Linked DNA regions of Homo sapiens. The protein of the gene in region 2 purifies or fractionates together with the protein of the main gene of each other region. This does not show direct contact. Each region holds a gene or a part of one and is shown on either strand. Other genes may lie near its edges. The genes, in order: CUX1, SLC12A5, KIF2A, NUP155, VEZT and CXADR.

The links.
Region 1: the proteins of SLC12A5 (region 2) and CUX1 purify together in Homo sapiens (affinity purification with mass spectrometry; one large-scale study listed by BioGRID and IntAct). This does not show direct contact.
Region 3: the proteins of SLC12A5 (region 2) and KIF2A purify together in Homo sapiens (affinity purification with mass spectrometry; one large-scale study listed by BioGRID and IntAct). This does not show direct contact.
Region 4: the proteins of SLC12A5 (region 2) and NUP155 purify together in Homo sapiens (affinity purification with mass spectrometry; one large-scale study listed by BioGRID and IntAct). This does not show direct contact.
Region 5: the proteins of SLC12A5 (region 2) and VEZT purify together in Homo sapiens (affinity purification with mass spectrometry; one large-scale study listed by BioGRID and IntAct). This does not show direct contact.
Region 6: the proteins of SLC12A5 (region 2) and CXADR purify together in Homo sapiens (affinity purification with mass spectrometry; one large-scale study listed by BioGRID and IntAct). This does not show direct contact.

The regions. Positions count from the first base shown.
Region 1 is NC_000007.14:102,191,626-102,195,125, reverse strand, and holds part of CUX1 (Homeobox protein cut-like 1), read right to left. Parts: intron 1,285-3,500; coding exon 1,236-1,284; intron 1,051-1,235; exon of another isoform or gene 921-1,050; intron 1-920. UniProt on the Homo sapiens protein: May be involved in intra-Golgi retrograde transport.
Region 2 is NC_000020.11:46,046,215-46,049,714, reverse strand, and holds part of SLC12A5 (solute carrier family 12 member 5), read right to left. Parts: intron 3,378-3,500; coding exon 3,279-3,377; intron 2,262-3,278; coding exon 2,142-2,261; intron 1,735-2,141; coding exon 1,630-1,734; intron 94-1,629; coding exon 1-93. UniProt on the Homo sapiens protein: Mediates electroneutral potassium-chloride cotransport in mature neurons and is required for neuronal Cl(-) homeostasis.
Region 3 is NC_000005.10:62,309,206-62,312,705, forward strand, and holds part of KIF2A (kinesin-like protein KIF2A), read left to right. Parts: intron 1-3,500. UniProt on the Homo sapiens protein: Plus end-directed microtubule-dependent motor required for normal brain development. May regulate microtubule dynamics during axonal growth. Required for normal progression through mitosis. Required for normal congress of chromosomes at the metaphase plate.
Region 4 is NC_000005.10:37,308,607-37,312,106, forward strand, and holds part of NUP155 (nuclear pore complex protein Nup155), read right to left. Parts: intron 2,138-3,500; coding exon 1,946-2,137; intron 967-1,945; coding exon of another isoform or gene 916-966; exon of another isoform or gene 817-915; intron 662-816; coding exon 523-661; intron 1-522.
Region 5 is NC_000012.12:95,276,807-95,280,306, reverse strand, and holds part of VEZT (vezatin), read right to left. Parts: intron 1-3,500. UniProt on the Homo sapiens protein: Plays a pivotal role in the establishment of adherens junctions and their maintenance in adult life.
Region 6 is NC_000021.9:17,558,043-17,561,542, reverse strand, and holds part of CXADR (coxsackievirus and adenovirus receptor isoform 1 precursor), read right to left. Parts: intron 2,568-3,500; coding exon 2,412-2,567; intron 842-2,411; coding exon 719-841; intron 206-718; coding exon 67-205; intron 1-66. UniProt on the Homo sapiens protein: Component of the epithelial apical junction complex that may function as a homophilic cell adhesion molecule and is essential for tight junction integrity.

The DNA.
Region 1 (3,500 bases), on a different chromosome or scaffold from region 2:
TTTTTTTTTGCCAGCCACAAAGATGTTGGCTGTCTTCTGGGCATCAGGAGTCAGATTCCACTTAGGATGTCAATTTTATTTGATTTGATTTTTTAATTTTTTGAGATGGAGTCTCACTCTGTCGCCCAGGCTGGAGTGCAGTGGCATGATCTTGGCTCACTGTACCCTCTGGCTCCTGGGTTCAAGTGATTCTCCTTCCTCAGCCTCCCAAGTAGCTGGGATTACAGACGTGCGCCACCACGCTCAGCTAATTTTTTATATTTTTGGCAGAGATAGGGTTTCACCATATTGGCCAGGCTGGTCTCAAATGCCTGACCTCAAGTGATCCACCTACCTCAGCCTCCCAAAGTGCTGGGATTACAGGAGTGAGCCACCATGCTTGGTCTGGGATGTCAATTTTAATTGGCCACCAGATGACCCTGGGCCACAGTCATCCTTCCCTTGTACCTTCTCTACTGAGGCAGCATGTAACTAAAGTTCCTAAACCAATCCATTTTTGGCTGCTCTTTAATGCAATTAAAAAAAAAATAGTCAGTCTCAATCTGTTGTCCAGGCTGGAGTGCAGTGGTGCGATCATAGCTCACTATAGCCTTGAACTACTGGGCTCAAGCGATCTTCCTGCCTCAGCCTCCCAAGTAGCTGGGACCACGGGTATATGTCACAGTACTTGGCTATTTTTTTTTTTTTTAATAGCAACATGGTCTTGCTATATTGCCCAGGCTGGTCTCAAATTCCTGGCCTCAAAGCGATCCTCCTGTCTTGGCCTCCCAAAGTGCTGGGATTACAGGCATGAGCTACTGAGCCTGGCCTTCTTAAACACAATCTGAAATTGTTTTTTATTTATGTTCTTAGTACCTGCTGAAGTGAAATCACAATTTCACTTCAGTTACCAGTTTGGAAAACACTAGCTTTTCTCTTTTTGCCTCTTTTTGTTAAAGATAATTTGCTTTTTGGTAGTGCCCATCTCCTATCAGTCAGGGATGAAGCAATCCCTTGTTCATCCCCAGCTTGGCTTTTGATCTATGCCTGGTTCATGCCTTGGACACATGGAAAAAAAGGAGACAAAAAAAAAAAGATAATTTGCTTCAACTTGGTTAAATGTTCTTGAAGTATGACTCATCGGCTGTAAGTGAGAGGTCTCGTAGAAACAGTGGATCATGGGATATGCCGGAGGGACCAGTGGTAACCAGCAGCGGGGCTGATGCTAGTGCTGACCATTGAGGTGAGACACGTACCTGTGTCCCAGCGCCCTCGGACGGTGCAAACTCCATGGACTTCAGAATGCTGCAAGAGCACAACAGAGGGGTTATTTTATTTATTTTTTGAGACAGAGTCTCGTTCTGTCACCCAGGCTAGAGTGCAGTGGCGCGATATTGGCTCACTGCAACCTCTGCCCAGGTTCAAGCGATTCTCCTACCTCAGCCTCCCGAGTAGCTGGGATTACAGGCATGTGCCATCATGCCCAGCTAATTTTTGTATTTCTAGTAGAGACGGGGTTTCACCACGTTGGCCAGGCTAGTCTCGAACTCCTGACCTCAAGTGATCCACCCGCCTCAGCCTCCCAAAGTGTTGGTATTACAGGCATGAGCCACCAGAGTGATTATTTTCTACTTATACCTTTGACAACAGCCACATTAATAAGCATTAACATTACAATTTCCTGCTCTCCAGGAACCGAAGAACTGTCAACTTTAACAACTTCCCTGGCAGTAATAGAATCTGATAATGTCTCTAGAATAACTATTCAACTAGCAGTTGGCTGGCAAAAGTTTCTTGCCTAGCATGTAAATCATTCCATATGGAATCACACCAGGTCTGTTCAGAGTATAATTTTAAAGTTTAATACAGACATAACATTGTTGCAAGTGGAATGTATTTGTAAAGCTTAAAGGGAAGGAAAAAGTTGTAAGGAGAAGCCAGAGAGAGGGGAACCCACCAGGGCGGCCACTGCCCACACCTCACTCCTAACTGGCACCTACCTGGGGACCAGGGGACATAGGCAAAGAGCAACCTCCTAGACTTGGATGACTCAGAAGCCAGGTGGGCAGACCTTCTCTGCAGCCCCAGGTTGGGGAAGGAGTGCAATGACAAAGATGTGGCAAGAGAAGGTGACTTCTCCCTCCCTTGTTCTCAATGGCACTGAAAAGGGCCGCACCCTGATCACTACGGTCTCTGGGCTGTCTCAGTGAGTCCAGGTCCCCAGGATTATTACTGTTTCTTGAGTTCCTTTTGCTGTGGATGTCCCTTTTTTGCTGAGTTTACCAGGGAGAAGAGGGGAAGTGAGGCTATGTGGCTTTGAAGGAGCTGCAAGTGTTTCTTTGAAATACCAAGGATGGAAGAGAGAGACCCAGAGCAGGCTGGCTGGACCGTGAGATTTACGACTCGCAGGTGCAGAGTCAACCGGACCTTCGCCATGTTCCTGCAGCCACAATTTCGGCCTCTGTCCCCCTAGTGTGAGCCACCACACCTGGATAATTTATTTTTAGTAGAGACGGTTTTGGCCAAGCTGGTTTCCTGACCTCAGGTGATCTGTCGGCCTCCCAAAGTGCTGGGATTACAGATGTGAGCCACTGCGCCCAGCTGAAAGGGGTTTCTTAAGATGGAATCCTGTCCTTCGTTTCCTATTTTCTTTAGGATTATGTAATAAAAGACCACGTGGCTCTTTATCTATTCTACAGATCTTTACCAGCAGCCTGCTATCCGCTTGTTGCCGTGGGGAATCAGAACCACTCCTGGTCCGTACTCCAGGAAATTTACAGGCCATTACAGGTAATAGGCAAGACTCCAAGTGGTCCATTAAGACAGAACTTGTGAGGACCCCAGCAGGAGGGATCTTGATGGATTGGAGACCACGTCTCAGTGTCATGATGAACAAGCATTGGAGAAGGGCCCTGAAGGGACAGGGTGTCTTGTGCTGCAGTGCATGAGGATCTGAGGTCAGCATCCCCTGTTGCGTGGGGGTGAGGAAGTGGAAATGGGACGATGCTGAGAAGGGGACGCGGGCAAGAGCTCAAGAGCACAGCTGGTTCACCAGGAAGTGGAAAACTAGGAGCGCATTTGGGCAAAGAAGCCACCTGAGTGGGGCTTCCAGATGTGCACATGGTGGTGGGGCCTGTCATGTGCGGACGCAACAGAAAGAGTTAGCAGAAATGCAGTGACAAGCGGGGCTGGTGTGGCAGCCCTTCAGTGGGGGTAGGGGCAGCCTGTGGTCCGGCAGGCTGTGGATGAGAGGGAGTAGAACGGTATGTGTTGCAGGCTGGAGCCTGGAAGCCTCAGCTCCCAGGGGATGAAGTGAACGTGGGGGTTGGGGGAGAAGAGGAGGAGGAGGAGGAGCAAGAGGAAGAAGAAGAGGAAGAGGAAGAAAGAAGAAGAGGAGGAGGAAGAAAGAAGAAGAGAGGAAGAAAGAAGAAGACAACGAAGACGACAATGAAGACGACGACTAACTCCCAGGGTGAGGCTGGGCAAAGGCCTTCGCAGCAGTTTCTCTGGCTCAAAATTAA
Region 2 (3,500 bases):
TTCCCCGCCTTCAGCTGGGAGGTCAGTGAGAGCAGCTGGGGGTGCACCACATTCTGGTCTTGGTCCACACGCACCAGCACCAGCAGCTGTGGCCTGAAGAGTGTGCAGAGTCACATAATCCATATACCATGTAACCAACCATCCACACACCATACACCCACCACCAGGTCATCTAGCCATCTCTCCTCTATAACCATCTGTCCCATCCACCTATACCCCTCACCACCCATCCATTCATCTACCCATCAACCCATTTCTCCATTCACCTCACTCACCTATCTACCCATTCAACCACCCACCCACCTATTTTATCCTTCAGTCATCCACTCATATGCATATTTCTTTACTGATACATGCATTATTCATTCAATTATCCACACATCTACCTACCTATCATCCATTCCTACATCCATCGATTCATGCTTTTGCCCGCCCACGTGTACATAAACTTATCCATCTACCCATCTATTTATGCATCCCTTTCCTTAGTCATTTAGCCGTCTTAGTCCTCCAACCACCTATCAACTTCGTAGCATTCTCTAAGCACCTACTCTGGGCTAGACCATGTGCTGAGCATTTGGGAATTCACAGATAAATAATATAGAGCCCCAGGTTCTGGGAGCCCAGTTTAGTCAACTGGGCTCAGCCAAGACAAGTCAACAATGCCCTAACCTAAGTCAGGGTTTCAGGCTCTACTCTTGGCAAGGTGAAACACAGGGAGATGAGTGAGGGGTTGGGCATGCAGCACCCAGGGCTAAGAGGTGGGGTGTGAGGATTCCATCTCCAGGTCTGCCTTCTGTGACCTGTGAGATCCTCTCTGACCTCCAATTTCCCCCTTTTTTTTTTTGAGACAGGGTCTCACTCTGTCACCCAGGCTGGAGTGCAGTGGTACAATCTCGGCTCACTATAACCTCTGCCTCCTGGGTTCAAGCTATTCTGCCTCAGTATCCTGAGTAGCTGGGACTACAGGTGCACGCCACCATGCCTGGCTAATTTTTGTATTTTTAGCACAGATGGGGTCTCGCCATGTTGTCCAGGCTTGTCTCAAACCCCTGGCCTCAAGTGATCCACCTGCCTCAGCCTCCCAAACTGTTGGGTTACAGGCATGAGCCACCGCGCTCGGCATCCCTGATTTTCACGTGAATAAAATGGATGAATTGTCATTAATCTAGAGATGCCTAAGAGCCCCTATAACTCTCAAAGGGAACGATTCCACCTGTCTCAGAGCAAATGCTACATGATCTGATGTTTGTCTGTCCCCATGTGTGTCTTCTCCACAAAACTGTGAGCTTCCTACATCCCCAGAGACTAGAAGGGGACTTGCCATACATCAGGCATTCATGTTTTATGAAAAAATGATGGAAATGATGAAATGAATGAATGGATGACTGCTCAGGAGGCTAGCATGGTGGGGTATGTGGACATTTACATACCCACATAAATGTCTGGAACTCAGCTCAGCCTCAGTGTTTCAGGTGGGAAGGAATCAGACAAGGCTGGGCTTTTAGGGCACGACTCAGCAAAACAAAGCAAGCAGGATAAGTCAGGCCCTGCTCCCTTCCCCCTGTCTCCTGAGCCTTGCACTCATGCACACACACTCTTATGCACACCCGTGCCCTCACCACTAACCTCCAGTTCTTGGTGTGTGGGGGCCCTTCCTCCAGGCGTAAGAGGGCATAGCGAGCCGCACTGAGAGACAGACCTCGTATCCCATCGCCCCACTCCTTCTCTGCCCTGGGAGCCGGGAAGTGGATCACATGAGAGCAGAAAGCCAGGAGGGGGCAGGGAGAACCATCTACACTGCACCAGCTACCCCAGGGCAGAGCCATCTCTCAGGCTCAGAAAGGACATGTGTATCACTCCTGCCAACAGACTCAACCAAGCCTTGGCTAAGTTTCCTTGGAAAATCACTTCTAAATCCATTCTCTCACCATTCCTGTCCATTTCTCAAAGCCTCTGCTCCCACCCCCCATCTTCCAATGTCATCCCATATCACCCTCTCCCTCTACTCCAGCCCCATCCTCTCCCACTCCCTGCTTCATCTCACCCCCACCACCCCAATCCCTCATGACCCCTTCCCTCTCCTTCCCACCACCCTTCAGCCTTCCCCAGCCACCCCAACCTCCACTCCCCACACTCACCCACGGTACTCAATGTACTTGTAGATGAGTCCAGCAATGAGCATGGCTACCAGTGCATAATACCAGGAGCAGATGAACATGAGGGCCAGGCAGAGGCTCATGCCCAGGAAGGAGAGGGTCCTAGACAAGGTGGGGAGACCCAGCCTCTGAGCCCCAGCAGGGCTGTTGCTGAAGCTGGGACTTAGAAAGCAAGAGGGAGATGGGGCAGGGCATGGGCAAGACCTGGGAGGTGACAGCCCGGTCTAGGGGAACTCACACCATCATCCCCATGAGGACTACGGGGATATGGGATCTTCTGGGTGAAAGAGAAGCCACAGACAGGGCACTACCCAATGCCCTGCCCAACTCCTGACACCCCACACCACCCTGTCCCTGTTCCTCAGACCCTGCCAGACAGGCCTGGCCAGGTGCATTCTGAGGCCAGGGTCTCAGGGGAGTGGAAACGGGTCCTCCCAGGAGAAGGCCACCAGCAAAGCCGGAGCATCCAGACAGGAGTGGGCAGCCCTGGTTCTAGCCCAGTTGTGTCACAGTCTTGCTGGGGGACCTTGGGCCGGTCCCTTGCCCTCTTTGGGCCTCAGTTTCCTTTTGTAGGACAAGCATGATCATTTCTGCTCTGTCTGCCCCCGAGGGCCTATTGTGAGGATGAAGAGCCATAGAGGAAAATGATGAGAGAACTACAGCCTCTGTGCAATGAGCATCTGCCATGTACTGTAGTCCTCACAAGAACCCACAGGCAGGTGCAGCTATCATGCCCATTTCACAGCTGAGGAAACTGAGGTTCTGAGAAGCTACATCATCAGCCCAAGATCTCACAGCTAGGAAGTGCAGAGTCATGATTTGAACTCTGGCCAGCTGACTTCCAGCCTCCCTGCTACATTGTGAGCTATTGGGCATCACGGACAGGAGAGAGATTCCAGCTGAGACCGCTTATGATGCTGCTATGTTATTATTTATGATTGTTAGGAGACCCTCTCGGGGACCTTCCTCATGTGAGTTGGTCAACAAAAGCTGGAGAAAAAAGGATGTCCTCTTCAGGTTTGGGGTCCTTAGACCCAGAGGGGATGGACTGGAGTAAGATGAGGATTGGCGTGGAGGTGAGCAAGTGGCTCAGTGGAAGTGTGGGGACAGAGCACCCACCAGTGGTAATATCGAAAGCGTGGCCTCCAGTTGGGTGTCCTCAGCAGCGTCTGCACTGCACAGGCCAGATTCACAAACATGTAGCACATCAGGAAGAACCTGGAACACAGGAAGGCCCCAGGGGAGACAGAGATGCAAAGGGAGGCAGAAACAGAAACAACAGCATGGGCAGAGAAAGGGGGAAAGGGGACAGGAAGTCAGGAGGTGGCCAGATCATGCTGT
Region 3 (3,500 bases), on a different chromosome or scaffold from region 2:
TTCAGCCTATACCAGAAGTTCCCAGACATACAAGAGCTTTGTGTTCTTACATAAGTGCTACTAACCTAAAGCCACATTTCAAAAGCGGTTTGCCTATAAGAAATTAGGGAAGTCATCACAGTGTGTTATTATCCTAACCTATGGTCATGTATCTTTTTATGTGCCTCAGATGCATGATGGAGTTGGTGGAAGGCAGGAGATTAGTAGAGAACTTCGAAAGAACAGAAGGATCATTTGCATTGGACAGTAGTGTTTCACAATAGAAATTGATGTCTGGGAGAATGCCCCTCAAGCTTTCCCTTTTTCACTTTAAAGAAGCTTGTTTGCTTCCTCTCACTTCCATAACGTCTATATTGGATAAAACACTAGTGGTTATTATAACAAAAATAAACTTTGCAGTTGGAGGAACACTAATATCTGAGACAGTAGAAATGACATGAGTAAAGAAGGGCTGCTTCAGACCATTATTAACTGGTGACTTGATGTTTTTCTTTTGGCTTGCTGATGGCGATCCATGTCCCTATTTCAGACCACACTTTTCCCATCAGTGATACTCTTACACTAATAAACATATCCCAAGGGCAAACAGGTACACTAAAATGAGCTTATTCCTATCTTTCAAGACCATGATGAAAACTATCCTAATGAGTCTTCACTGATTACTAAAACCAGATGGCCAGTCAGCATCTGAATTCCTAAATCATTCTGTATTATTCATGAGACAGCATATTTCCTTAAGTATTAATGTTTGGGTCTGTAACTTTTTTTTTTCCACTCCTCTCAGCTCATACCTATGGGTACATATTCTTAATACTATGTTTTTAAACTGCATGGGGTAATGGGACTTACTAATAACTAATAATTCTTTTTTTTTTTTTTTTTGAGACAGAGTCTCGCTCTGTCAGTGGTGCGATCTCCGCTCACTACAACCTCTGCCTCCCAGGTTCAAGCGATTCTTATGCCTCAGCCTCCCAAGTAGCTGGGACTACAGGTGTGTGCCACCATGCCCGGCTAATTTTTGTATTTTTAGTAGTGACAGGTTTTTGCCACGTTGGCCAGGCTGGTCTCGAACTCCTGGCCTCAAGTGATCCACCCACCTCAGCCTCCCAAAGTACTGGGATTACAGGTGTGAACCACTGTGCCCAGCCTCTAATGACTCTTAAATTCCCTGAATGCATCTGTGTCATTACCCCCATTCCCACCCCCACTACTGGGATGTCTAGCAAAATTCCTTGCACATCGTTTTTGAATAAATCATACATTATTGGATTTTTTGTTTTCAAACATTTTAATTAATCATTAGAATGACATCTTAGCTGGAAGTGAAACCTTCCATCTGTGCTCCTCTGTACTGCTACCTCCCTACTCTGGCCCTCTACTTCCCGCTGGCCTGTTAGTCAGGAACTACAGCGTTAATTGAAATTGAGTGATCTGCTAAGGTTAATCTGACTTTTCTGGTTTTCTAAGGTTATCAGTGACAGGGGTTAGGCTTGGACTGCTAAGATTATTCTCTGCCACAGGAGATAACCTGGTATGAAATTGGACTGGTGTGTTTTCTTACATGTGTCTTCCTATTTTTCTGATTCAATTCCTTTCCCTTTTTAAAACCCACTGACTCTTAAAAAAACCTACAATCTTTCTGTCGTGTAGCTAGTTTGGTTTTTTTTTTCTTTTAGCTGTGCTGTTAACAGTTCTGTAGTAGCTGTGACTACCCTTTGGGGACTGGGGAAGAAATGGGAAATGTTGAACATTTGGAAGCTGCAGCTAATATGGGATTGTTCTTTGGGGGCGGGTCTCTTAGTCACAGTACTGTGACTGTATTGATACATGTAATCTGAAGAGAATCTTAGAATATTTCCACCAGAAAGGTTTTTGGAGATAAACTAGTTTTCATTTTTATAAATGTGGAAACTTGAGTCCCAGATCACCATAAGTGACTTATCTAGATTCATACAACTTGTCAATGGCAGCCAGGAACCTGACATGCTTAGCATAGAAATCAGACTATCAAGAACTATGACAGTAAAGGAGGAATTCTCTGTTATTTTGGAACCGTATACCGCTTTTTACAGCCCAGTCAAGATGTAGGAAATTGCTTCTTACTTCGGAGAAAGGCACCAGCGAGCAGTGTTACAGAGCTTGATTAGAATGATCCCTGGTAAGAAGTGCTATGTTACTACAAGTTCACCAAACCTAAAATTGTGGGAGGAAAGTATTCTTGTTTCTTAGTTAAGTATTGGTGTAAAGAGTTCCTTTTAACATCTGAAATCAAGAGGCAATTGAAGATTTCAAAGGACCCATCAGGAATTTTGGAGTTCAGGGCAGGCAAAGAAAATCTTTAGAAAAGATTTTAAATGGCCTAATTCTTTATATGCTTTGCCACATTTTTCTTCTGCTAGTTCATCTTTACACGTCACTATATAGGCTTCTGGAGAATAGCATGTGTAAATTTAAGTAATAAAGATGAACCATGTGGCAATACAGTTGTTCTTTAGGTACAATTATGTGATTGATTATGGGGGTGGGATGGAATAGGGGCATTTGTGACCTAATAGTTCCCTTTTCCCTGAGGACTAGGACGATAATGTTTCTGTATATGGATTTGTTAGGGCTTAATAGTTTTCCAAGTGCTTCAAGACATGTTAGCTAATTGGATCTTCACAGGAACTCTATGAGGTAAGCAGGATAGAAAGGTGGCAGATTATTGGTTTATAGGTGAAGAATCTGAGGTTGGATTATTTGCCAAGATCACATGGTTAATAAGGAGCATAGCCTGGGCCAAAGCCCGAATCCCTTCACTCCCAGCTCTCTAAGTGCTGCTGACAGATGTTTGCTGATTATGGTGTGAAGTTGTATACTTTAGTATTTCTTTCTGAGACATACAAACCCCTGTAGTAAAATTCTTTCCACTACTACCAAAGAAGCTCAAAAAACTTAAAATAGGCACTTATTGCTTCCAAAAGTACCACAGAAAGCCAGGAATCTGTATTCATTGCCTAGCCACTTGATTCTTATGACAAAGATTTTGAAACTCTGGGGAAAGGCTATGTGTCAACTTGTTTTATGTGTCATGATTGTTAAAATGCTAGAGAAAACAGCAAAGAGCCAGTTAAATCTGTGTCTGCTCAAATAAGACAAGGGGCAAGAGTGTGGAAAATCCAGAACAAGATTCCCTGAGAGATCATCTAGACCCCGTTCTTTCTAGTCAGAAGTATAGTTGTGATTAATATGACATTAATCTTTTGCAAAGTTTAATTCTTGGATTCAGCCATCTGCTTTAATTTTAACACATCTGTTTTGTAACCTAAAATAATTTTAAGGTGTTTGTTTATTTGTTTGTTTGTTTTGAGATTACGATTCTTAAGAATAGATACAAGTTTTAAACCTTGGATAAAACTAATTTTTATTCTTCTGGTTCAGTTGTAGAACAAATACAGGTTAAGTTGTCTTCCAGCTCTTTTAGATAAAGCAATATTAGTGGTTTTATAGTGCTAAGTGAA
Region 4 (3,500 bases), on a different chromosome or scaffold from region 2:
ATGGCGTGAACCTGGGAGGCAGAGCTTGCAGTGAGCTGAGATCGCACCACTGCACTTCAGCCTGGGTGACAGAGCAAGACTCTGTCTCAAAATAAAAAAAATAAAAAAATAAAAAAATAAAAAATTAGCTGGGCGTGGTGGCGTGCGCCTGTAATACCAGCTACCCGGGAGGCTGAGGCAGGAGAATTGCTGGAACCTGGGAGGCAGAGGATGCAGTGAGCTGAGATCGTGCCACTGCACTCCAGCCTGGCTGACAGAGCGAGACTCTCAAAAAAAAAAAAAAAAAAAAAAAAAAGTACATTTCAAAAAATAGAAAGAACATTACAGCTTCTGCAGGTCAGTGTAGTCATCAAATATTGCAACACAATGATACCACATTCCTACGTCCTTTCACTCGGCCTCTGATGCTGAAAGAAGATTTGCATCTGGAAAGTGGCTTTTCATCATTAGCTTGCTTCATTCATACACTATTGTTTGTCTTTTGAGTTGAGTAAAAGATACAAGAAACATTTTATTTCTCACCTTGTCTATACTGAGCACAAACATTGGAAAGGTCCACTTGATTGCTAATTTTTTGATATTCCTTTAATGATTCCCTTAACATTCTTTCTTTTTCAGTCTTATTTTGAACTTGTCGGGAACGCTGGAGAAGCTCATTTGCCTAGAAGAGGAGATAACAAGAACTTAAAAATATATAAAATCAAGCAGACAGATGATGCTGTCAACTAAGTTTTAGTCTATGTCTAAATTTATATATGGTTATTACCATTAAAATGAAAACAACTCTACAAACTTACTTCTTAATTTTAGGCAGAAAAGTTTTTGACCAAAGATTCCTAGCTATTCTTAATTCCTCTCCCAAATATGTTAAGCAAGAGAACTTTTGTCTGGTAATTCTCTTGCCTAGTCAATACATTATTGGGCAGCAGGCAGTCCATGTGACACTGATTTATTTATTTTTTCCACCTGTAGGAAAGGATCAATAAAAATGCCCCCATTAACTCTAATTCACTAAAAGATTTACTTGAAGTTTTAGTACTTTTCCTTAAGCTAAGGAGATAAATTATCCCCTAAATTTCCTTAATTTCTAAATTTAGTGATTTTTCTTAATTTCTCACCTTTGGTTTTTTAATATGGCCTAGAAACACTATCAAAGATTCTTTATGGGCCAGGCGCAGAGGCTCATGTCTATAATCCCAACACTTTGCAAGGCTGAGGCAGGCGGAGGTCAGGAGTTCAAAACCAGCCTAGACAACATGGTGAAATCCTGTCTCTACCAAAAATATAAAAAATTAGCCAGGTGTGATGGTGCACACCTGTAATCCCAGCTATTTGGGAGGCCGAGGCAGGAGAATCACTTGAACCTGGGAGGTGGAGGTTGCAGTGAGCTGAGATCGTACTCAGTCTTAAAAAAAAAGAGAGAATATTCTTTATGAAAAACTTAAAGGAGGGCTGGGCATGGTGGCTCACACTTATAATCCCAGCACTATGGGAGGCTGAGGCAGGAGGATCACTTGAAGCCAAGAGTTCAAGACCAGCCTGTGCAACAAATCAGAACTTGTCTCTATAAAAAACAAAAAAATTGGCTGGGTGTAGTGGTGCACACCCGTAGCCCCTAGCTACATGAGAGGCCTGCTTGAGTCTAGGACTTAGAAGCTGCTGTGAGCTATGATCACAGCACTGCACTACAGCCTAAGCAACAGAGTGAAACCCTGTGTCAAATAAATAAATAAAAATATTTTTAAAAAGAAAAGCTAAGCTTAAAAGAGTATACACTGGTTTTAAGAAGCCACATATTCCAACCCCTTTCTTAGATGAGGATTCTGAGGCTAGGAGAGGTTAAGAGATCTAACTGACTGAGGTCCTATATTAAGTGAAACAAGATGGTTCATCATACATGATACCTCTTATAACAAACAATGAAATAGGTAATAAAGTATCATACCTTAGAACAAATTGCATCATCAGTGCTATATAGAAGTGGGCAGATATCCTGTAAATGTAAACTAATGCCATCAACAGCGGCATTATCTCTGATGTAGCAGTTGATAAGAGAAGCAATTAATGCCCCTGTGAGTTCTTTGTCCCTGATTACAAGATCTTTAAAGGTGGTGATCTTCAGCTGCTCTTGAAGTTCCTAGGAGCATAAAACTTTTCTATCACAATTATAGAAATACCATATTTCTAAACATAATGAAATTATTTTAATAAATTAAAATAACCTAAATATTAATAGACTCTATAATTGAAAAGCGAAAATATACTAATTAGTAGAAACAAATTTTTGCGAACTTACATAAAATCATAGAGAGTTGGAAAAGAACCTACAGTAGATCTAGTCCAAAACTCTCACTTTCCAAATGAGAAAAGTAAAGCTTAAGTAGAGCCAAAACTAGAGTCAGATCTCCTGGCTTTGGTTATAAAATGGAAAAAACAATCACTTGGCTATATTTGAAAATCTTGGGCTTACATATTACTCCTTCCTAAACACTGTTAGAATTCCATTATTCTAGGCCTTATAATAATATTGGAGTTTAATCTGTATTGTGAACAAATCTGCTTGTCCAAATGAAGCTCTAAAGTATTGATTTATACTATAGTAAAAGATTCTGTTAGTGATGTGACTGCTATCTCTTTTTTCTAAATTCAAGGAAATACCCAAACTGTGTTAAAATTCTTGAACAAATCTTTAATTTGCATTCATTGAGCATGCCATTGGTGATGTAAGGAAGAGAGCTTTGAAGATGGATCACAAAAACATACCCAGGATAAAAACCTACCTACAATATATTTATCACTCTATAAAACTCAAAATTATTATTCTACTTGGTATGAAAAAGATAAGTTTCATAATTAAATATATTAGCTTGAATTTTTAAAAATAAAAAACAGTATGTATTTAAAAGAAACAAAACCACCAACAAAAGCCACACTATTCATTGGACACTAGTGGAAAGAATGAGGAGACTGCCTTCCAACGTTGAAAAATGGTATACGAGAGTCAAAAAGTAAGTGTTTCAGAGTAATGAAATATCCATACAGGACAAGGAAAAAGAATTTTTTTTTTTTTTTTTACAGAATTGCAGCTAGTAACTGGGGAAGGAATCACAGATTTAAAATATTATCCTTTTGGCCGGGCATGGTGGCTCATGCCTGTAATCCCAGCACTTTGGGAGGCCAAGGCAGGTAGATCACCTGACGTCAGGAGTTCAACACCAGCCTGGCCAACATGGCGAAACCCGGTCTCTTACTAAAACTACAAAAATCAGCCAGGCGTTGTGGCACATGCCTGTAGTCCCAGCTACTCGGGAAGCTGAGGCAGGAGAACTGCTTGTACCCGGGAGGTGGAGGTTACAGTGATCTCAGATTGCTCCACAGCACTCCAGCCTGGGTGACAGAATGAGACACTGTCTCAAAAAAAATAAAAAACAAACAAACAAATAAATAAATATTACCCTTTTGTAATCCTAAATGAAATAATAAATTCCAGCAATGATTAT
Region 5 (3,500 bases), on a different chromosome or scaffold from region 2:
TGGGAGCACACAGGGTAGATCTATGGAACAGCAAGAAGCTCAGTACGGCTGGGGCCAGGTAAGCAATGGGGAGCCACTGAAGGGTTCTGAGCAGAAGCATGACATAATCTGATTTATGCGTTAACAGGCCCATACTGTCTGCTGAGTTGAGAGATTATAGGAAAATGAGAGTAGAAGTGGAGAAACCAGTAAGGAAGTTACTGCAATATTCCAGGTAAGCATTAATGAGACCACGGTGGTTAGTGGTGGAAGGTGAGCAGCAGATGGACTCTGGATACATTGTGAAAGCAGAACTAACACAATCTCTTGACTGATTGGTATTGAGAGAAAAAGAGTTAACAAGGATGATTCCAGCATGTTGGGTCAAGATAACTGCAAGAATCAAGTTGGTACAGTTTACTGCGGCTTTTGAAAAGACTAAAGGCCAGGCGCAGTGGCTCCCACCTGTAATCCCAGCACTTTGGGAGGCTCACTTGAGGCCAGTAGTTGGGAGACCAGCCTGGGAAACACAGTGAGACCCCTGCCTCTACAAAATATTTTCTTAAAAATTAGTCAGGCATGGTGGCACATAACTGTTGTTCCAGCTACTTGGGAGGCTAGGGTGGGAGGATCGCTTGAGCCCAGGAGTTCAGGGTTACAGTGAGCCACGATTGCACCACTGCACACCAGCTGTGTGACTGAGCAAGACCTTGTCTCTAAAGACTAATTTGTCATCCAATCACTGTCACATTACCCACTTAAACCAGAACTCAGAAATATGTATTTCTTTTTTCCTGTTTGTTCTTTGGATAAGGAAAGCTCCTCTGGATAAGGAGATAACCATAGCTGATAGGTAAACAGAAAATTTTGATTTAAAGCATTTCACAATGTGTGCATTTATTTTTTCTAGAGCAGGAAACAGATGACTTCATAAATTTAAAAAACTAGTTAAAAACTTAAAGGAAAAGAGAGGGATAAGGACTGTGTTCTAGGGACTGATTGAGTATCCCTAATCCAAAACTTTGAAATGAAATCCCAAATGCTCCAAAATTTGAAACTTTTTGAGCACCAACATGGCAGTCAAAGGAAATGCTCACTGGAACATTTCAAATTTCAAATTTTTGGATTAGGGATGCTCAACCTCAATGTGTAATGCAAATATTCCAAAATCTGAAAAAATCCAAAATCCAAAACACTTCTAGTCTCAAGCATTTTGGATAAGAAATTAATTAATCAATTAATTTATTTATTTATGTTGAGACGGAGTTTCGCTCTTGTTGCCCAGGCTGGAGTGCAATGGCACGATCTTGGCTCACCACAACTTCCGCCTCCTGGGTTCAAGCGATTCTCCTGCCTCAGCCTCCCGAGTAGCTGGGATTACAGGCATGCACCACCACACCTGGCTAATTTTTTGTATTTTTAGTAGAGACGGGGTATCTCCATGTTGGTCAGGCTGGTTGCAAACTCCCAACCTCAGTTGATCCGCCCGCCTTGGCCTCCCAGAGTGCTGGGATTACAGGCGTGAGCCACGGTGCCAGGCCTGGATAAGACTCACGCCTGGATAAGAAATATTCAACCTGTATTTTATTTATGTCTCCTCAGGCTACAATTTGGAGGTTGCTTTTCTTTCTAAAGGTGCAATACTTACTATCACTAAACTTTCCTGAGGGAAGATACGGGAACAATAAAAAATAAATCCAAAATGTATTTTCTTTAGAGGGGGCAACACACTTTTAAAAATTTAACTTACAAAATCTATTTTTAAATTTCTTATCTGAATAACGATACAGTGGTAACTACAGAAGGGGGTAATACACAGTCTTTGAACATTACAGGGGTTTTCAACAGTTTGCAAAGTCTATAGAGCTCCTCAAGATAAGGCTCCTTTCAGAGCCTGATAAATGTGGTAACTGTAACACAATCATTGAGTTTGGTTACAGGTTAGTTATATGTAAAAATAAAAGAAATATAAAAATACTATTATAGTTTGATTTGTAAAACACTGTGAGTGAGCAAAAGGAATCTAGCTATAATCACCATTGTTGGAAGGTAGGATGGGGATACAGCAACAGAGAACAAGTCTCACATTTCAGAGCAGGCCATATCAGATAGAATTTTAAAAATCAGCTAACATTCATTAATTGCTTACTCTACACCAGGCACTGAACTGACAAACATCTAATCCTTTGGAGGCAAGCATTGCAATTATCCCATTTTAATAAACACAGAAACAATGATTTGCTCAGGACCACACAGTAGTCAAATAACGGAGCTAGAGTGAAACCTGGAAAATCTGACTCCACAGGGTCCACAACTTCTCTTTGCTGCCTATACTTAAGCTAGAGTACAATTCAGGATTTAATAAGCTTTTAAAAACAGTACATCAACAGCATAAAGAAATAAATCTCCAAGGCATCTTGATGAGTTAACAAAAAGTAATTTAAAAGGAAATGAAATACTATAATTCTTTCTCCAAGTCCTTCTTAAAGAATAACAGCTATTACCATTTGGGGGTACCCATTATATGTCAAGCCCTGTTCTAGGTATTTAATATGTCTTCTCATTTAATCTAATACCTTATAAGGCAGGGATGGTAACTCCTTTTCACAGGTGACATAAGTTCAAAGAATAACTTATTCAAAGGCAAATGGCTAGTCAGTCAGGGCTAAAATATAAACACAGGTCTGCTCCATTTTCCACATTAAGAATCTCTTAAATTGTACTTTGAAAAAAATCTTTATTTTCCTTAAAGAATAAAGCAAGGTTAGGATATTAAATTCGAAAGGGTGTGAAAGTATCTATAGTCCCACCACCCCAAAGAGTAGCTATATATATCTTGGTATTTTCTCCTCATTTTTTTTTTTAAACAGGGTTGTGGACATATTGCATATACACTTATGTATCCTGATTGTTTCACTGGCAACAGATGTTTCTCCAAGTTTTTACAGAATTTTCACGGGCAAGCTGTAGCTGCTACACAATGGTTCACCATGTGGCTCTGGCATGACTCACACAGCCATTCCTCTATTTTTGAACTTTCAGGCAGTGTTCCATTGTGCACTATTATAAACACAAAGTGAATAAGCAGCTTGGTATATAAAGTTTAACTATGTTTTAAATAATTTCCTGCAGTTTGTAGAAGGGGAATTACAAATTCAAAGGATAAATCATTAAAAAGGTTCTTTACATGTCAAGTTGCATTCTGAAACAAATAACTTTAGATAACTGAGGAAAGTACTGCAGCAGCCTAAGTATGAAATGATGGTGGCTGGGACTAGCATGGTGGCTGGGACTAGGATGGTGCGGGGGCGGGGGTGGATATAGAAAAAAGTGGATGGGTTTAAAATACATTTTCAAGGTAGAAGTGACATAAGAATCTGCTAACAGACTGGATGTGAGTGGGCAAAAAGAGGGACAAGAAAGATGGTGTCCAGGTTTTTTGTGGTGCCATTTATTGAGATGGGTTAGAAGGGGAGTAGGAATAAGCCAAAGCAAATTTTACGTAATAGGAAAGAAAGAAA
Region 6 (3,500 bases), on a different chromosome or scaffold from region 2:
ACGAATGCTTTAGAGAAATGACATATATTTGGTATACATCAGTCAACTCCTGTCTCACTTAATTACCTGATATCGTGATGAACTTCCTTTTCATATTTTTCTTCTCTGCGCTTTTTACGACAGCAAAAGATGATAAGACCAATGAGCGCTAGAGCAAGCAAAGTTCCTATAATGGCTCCTGCAATTAGTCCAGCTTTATTTGAAGCTAAAATAAGAAGAATTAATAGTAAAAAATATATACATATATACATGTATAGATACTGAAGGTAGGCTATACATTTTTAGATTGATTTCATCACGTGTTAACTTTAAGACAAATTATTTAGTCTTTTTGATCCGGGGGAAAAATTCATAAAAAGAACTGTCTTCTGAACTGTATAATCTATTCCAAGCATTAAAATGATAAAACCTGTCTGAAAGATTTTAATATTCAAAGCTATCTTGGTTAACATATAAGAATGTTCTAAGCTACTCATACTTATAACAGCTAAATATGGTACAAGGGTTGATTTGACAACTCTTACCTTCTTAATATATCATTGCAATTATGAAGTTTTTTTAATAAAATGTATTTTTCTAGAAAAGCTAATAATCAAACCACAGTGTTCTGATCAAAGTCAGTGTCCCTTTGTCCTTAATACACACTTGCTGACTGAACTAAAGGAGGTGGTATAAAGATAACAGAAACAAAACCACCAACAGAAAGAAGATAACTTACGAGGGACAACGTTTAGACGCAACAGGCACTGATCAGAGCCCACTCTGTTTCTGACTGTACAGCTGTATGTCCCAGAGTACTCAGAAGAGGCATTTTTTACAGATATAACAGATGAAGTCATTTCTATGGAAGGAGGAAAAAGAAAACAAACTCATTTTTATAGTATGTATTGTTATCAGGTGTTAGTAAACATAGTCCTCTCCAAATTAAACAATCCAGTTAAAAGCAAGACAGACCAAGGCTGGATGCAAGCAAACTGGCATTGAGCCACACAGATGTTTCCAGAATTCAATCATGCTTCCAGTTCACATGTATCAAGGTGAAAGTAACCATGATCCCCTGCAGCACACAGCCTCAGCTGGAGCAGGGGTGCTGGTCCACTGTGTACCTGCTGCAAACCCATCTTGGGGCACATAAGACTATAAACGCTACCGCATTCCACAAAGGATCTTTCCTGCAGCAGGAAAACATACAAAACCTATTTTATTCCCCCCTAGATGGAAGAAACATACAAAAGGAAGTCAGAAGAGGACTCCCAGATTGGTCTCTTAGTTTGAAAAACAGAGAGGCAGAGAGAAAACCTACTAAAGACCAGGATGCAGTGGATGGCGGGGTGGAGCCTGGTCATCAGTTTGAACTAAGAAGTCAATTATAACAAATAGGTGAGCAGATTTGGCCAATTTGTAACTTTCTAGTTAGTGTCACACGGGTTTTCTTTTAATTTACAGACACACCATGGGTAAATTACTATATTTTCAATCTAGGCAAAACACTAAAGAGCCAACTCTTACTATACTTTAGCCACCATCTAAGTTGTAATCATGAACATGTCTCATCAATTAAAAAAAAAAAATTCGCCAGGCGCAATGGCCCACACCTATACTTTGGGAGGCTGAGGTGGGTGGAGAGCTTGAGCCCAGGAGTTTGAGACCAGTGTGGGCAACATGCAGAAACTCCATGTCTACAAAAAATACAAAAATTAGCAGGGTGTGGTGACACATGCCTGTAGTCTCAGCTACTCGGGAGGCTGAAGTGGGAGGCTCACTTAAGCCTGGGAGGTGAAGACTGCAGGGAGCCGAGATTCTACCACTGCACGCCCAGCCTGGGTGACAGAGCGAGACCCCTTGTCTCGGAAAAAAAAAAAAAAAAAAAAAACCCAAAAAAAAGTACCAAAGTAACTAATATCCTAAAAAAATGAAATCATAGAATAGCTCTTCATTTATAATATATGACACTAAATTGATATTATAAAACACTGAATAATTCCTATGGAAATCCTGATTATTCTATGTAGAAAAGGGAAAGAAAGCATCTGGGAATCTACAATATACAAGCAGGCTGGGCACATGCCTGGGCTCATGCCTGTAATCCCAGCACTTTGGGAGGCCAAGGAAAGAGGACTCCTTGAGCCCAGGAGTTTGAGACCAGCACAGGCAACGCAGGGAGATCCTGTCTCTACACATTTTTTAAAAAAAAAATTAGCAGGGTGTGATGGCATGCACCTGTAGTTCCAGCTAACTGGGAGGCTGAGGTGGGAGGATGACTTGAGCCTAGGAGGTTGAAGCTTCAGTGAGCCGTGATTGCAGTGAGCCTGGGTGACAGAGCAAGGCCCTATCTCAAATCACACACACACCCCTACTAGATCTTAGTCCAAATCAATGGCATGTGGTACAAATACTATTATCAGCAGTACCTGCTAACCATGAAGTGGGCATTTTCTGTGAGTCAGACAATTTTTGCCACTCATACTGTAATGGAAGTGAACCTTCTTTTGGTTCACATTTTATCTTAAAGTCACTTCCAATTTCTTCAGATCCATCAACGTAACATCTCGCACCTGAAGGCTTAACTGAAAGAGAAAACAAATTATAAATTTACATAAGAGAATGGAACTTACTTTTATGAATACAGCATTGTACACAACCACTGACTCATTATCAGTTGGTTCTGGGTTCAGAATTCACAAAAGAATGAAAGACCACAGTAAGTGATCAACATCAGTTTATTCAGCTTTATCTGACACAAAACAGCAAAGAATAAGCTCAGACAAGCAGCCACTGCATTAGTAGATATGGCAATATCTCAGGCATAGCTCGGTGCCTGTCCATTTCATGGGGCACACCTGAAAAAAAGCAAGAATGATGCACTTGCTTTTTTCAGCAAGACCACTTGAGAGTCAAGGAAGCTCCCCCTCCCATTCCTTAGCTATTCTTCCCCATGCCTGACATGTAACCCTCTGGCAGTATGTACCAAGTCACATCCCTCTAGGCGCCATAACCCTGACAATCAGGCAGTTTATCATCAACAATACTAACAACACTTAGTGTGGCAAGGAACAACTAGCATTCTGCATTTACATCACCTCAAATCCATCCAAAGAGCAGGCTACAAAAAAGAAAACCTGGGCTGGGCATAGTGTAATCTCAGCACTTTGGAGGCCAAGACAGTGGGGGGATCACTTGAGGTCAGGGGTTTGAGACCAGCCTGGGTAACATAGCGAGACTCTGTCATAATAAAAACTTCGAAAAATTAGCTGGGTGTGGTGATGTGTGCCTGTGGTCGTAGCTACTTGGGAGGCTGGGGTAGGAGGATGACTTGAGACCAGGATTTTGAGGCTGCAGTGAAGCTTTGATCATGTCACTGCACTCCAGCCTAGGTGACAGAACCAGACCCTGAATCAAAAAGATATTCACAGCCTGGAAATTCATGTGTAAAAAAGAATATTTAATTAAAAAAAAAAAAAGGAAATCTGAGGTTATATTCCAGGTGTTTCTGGGTAACT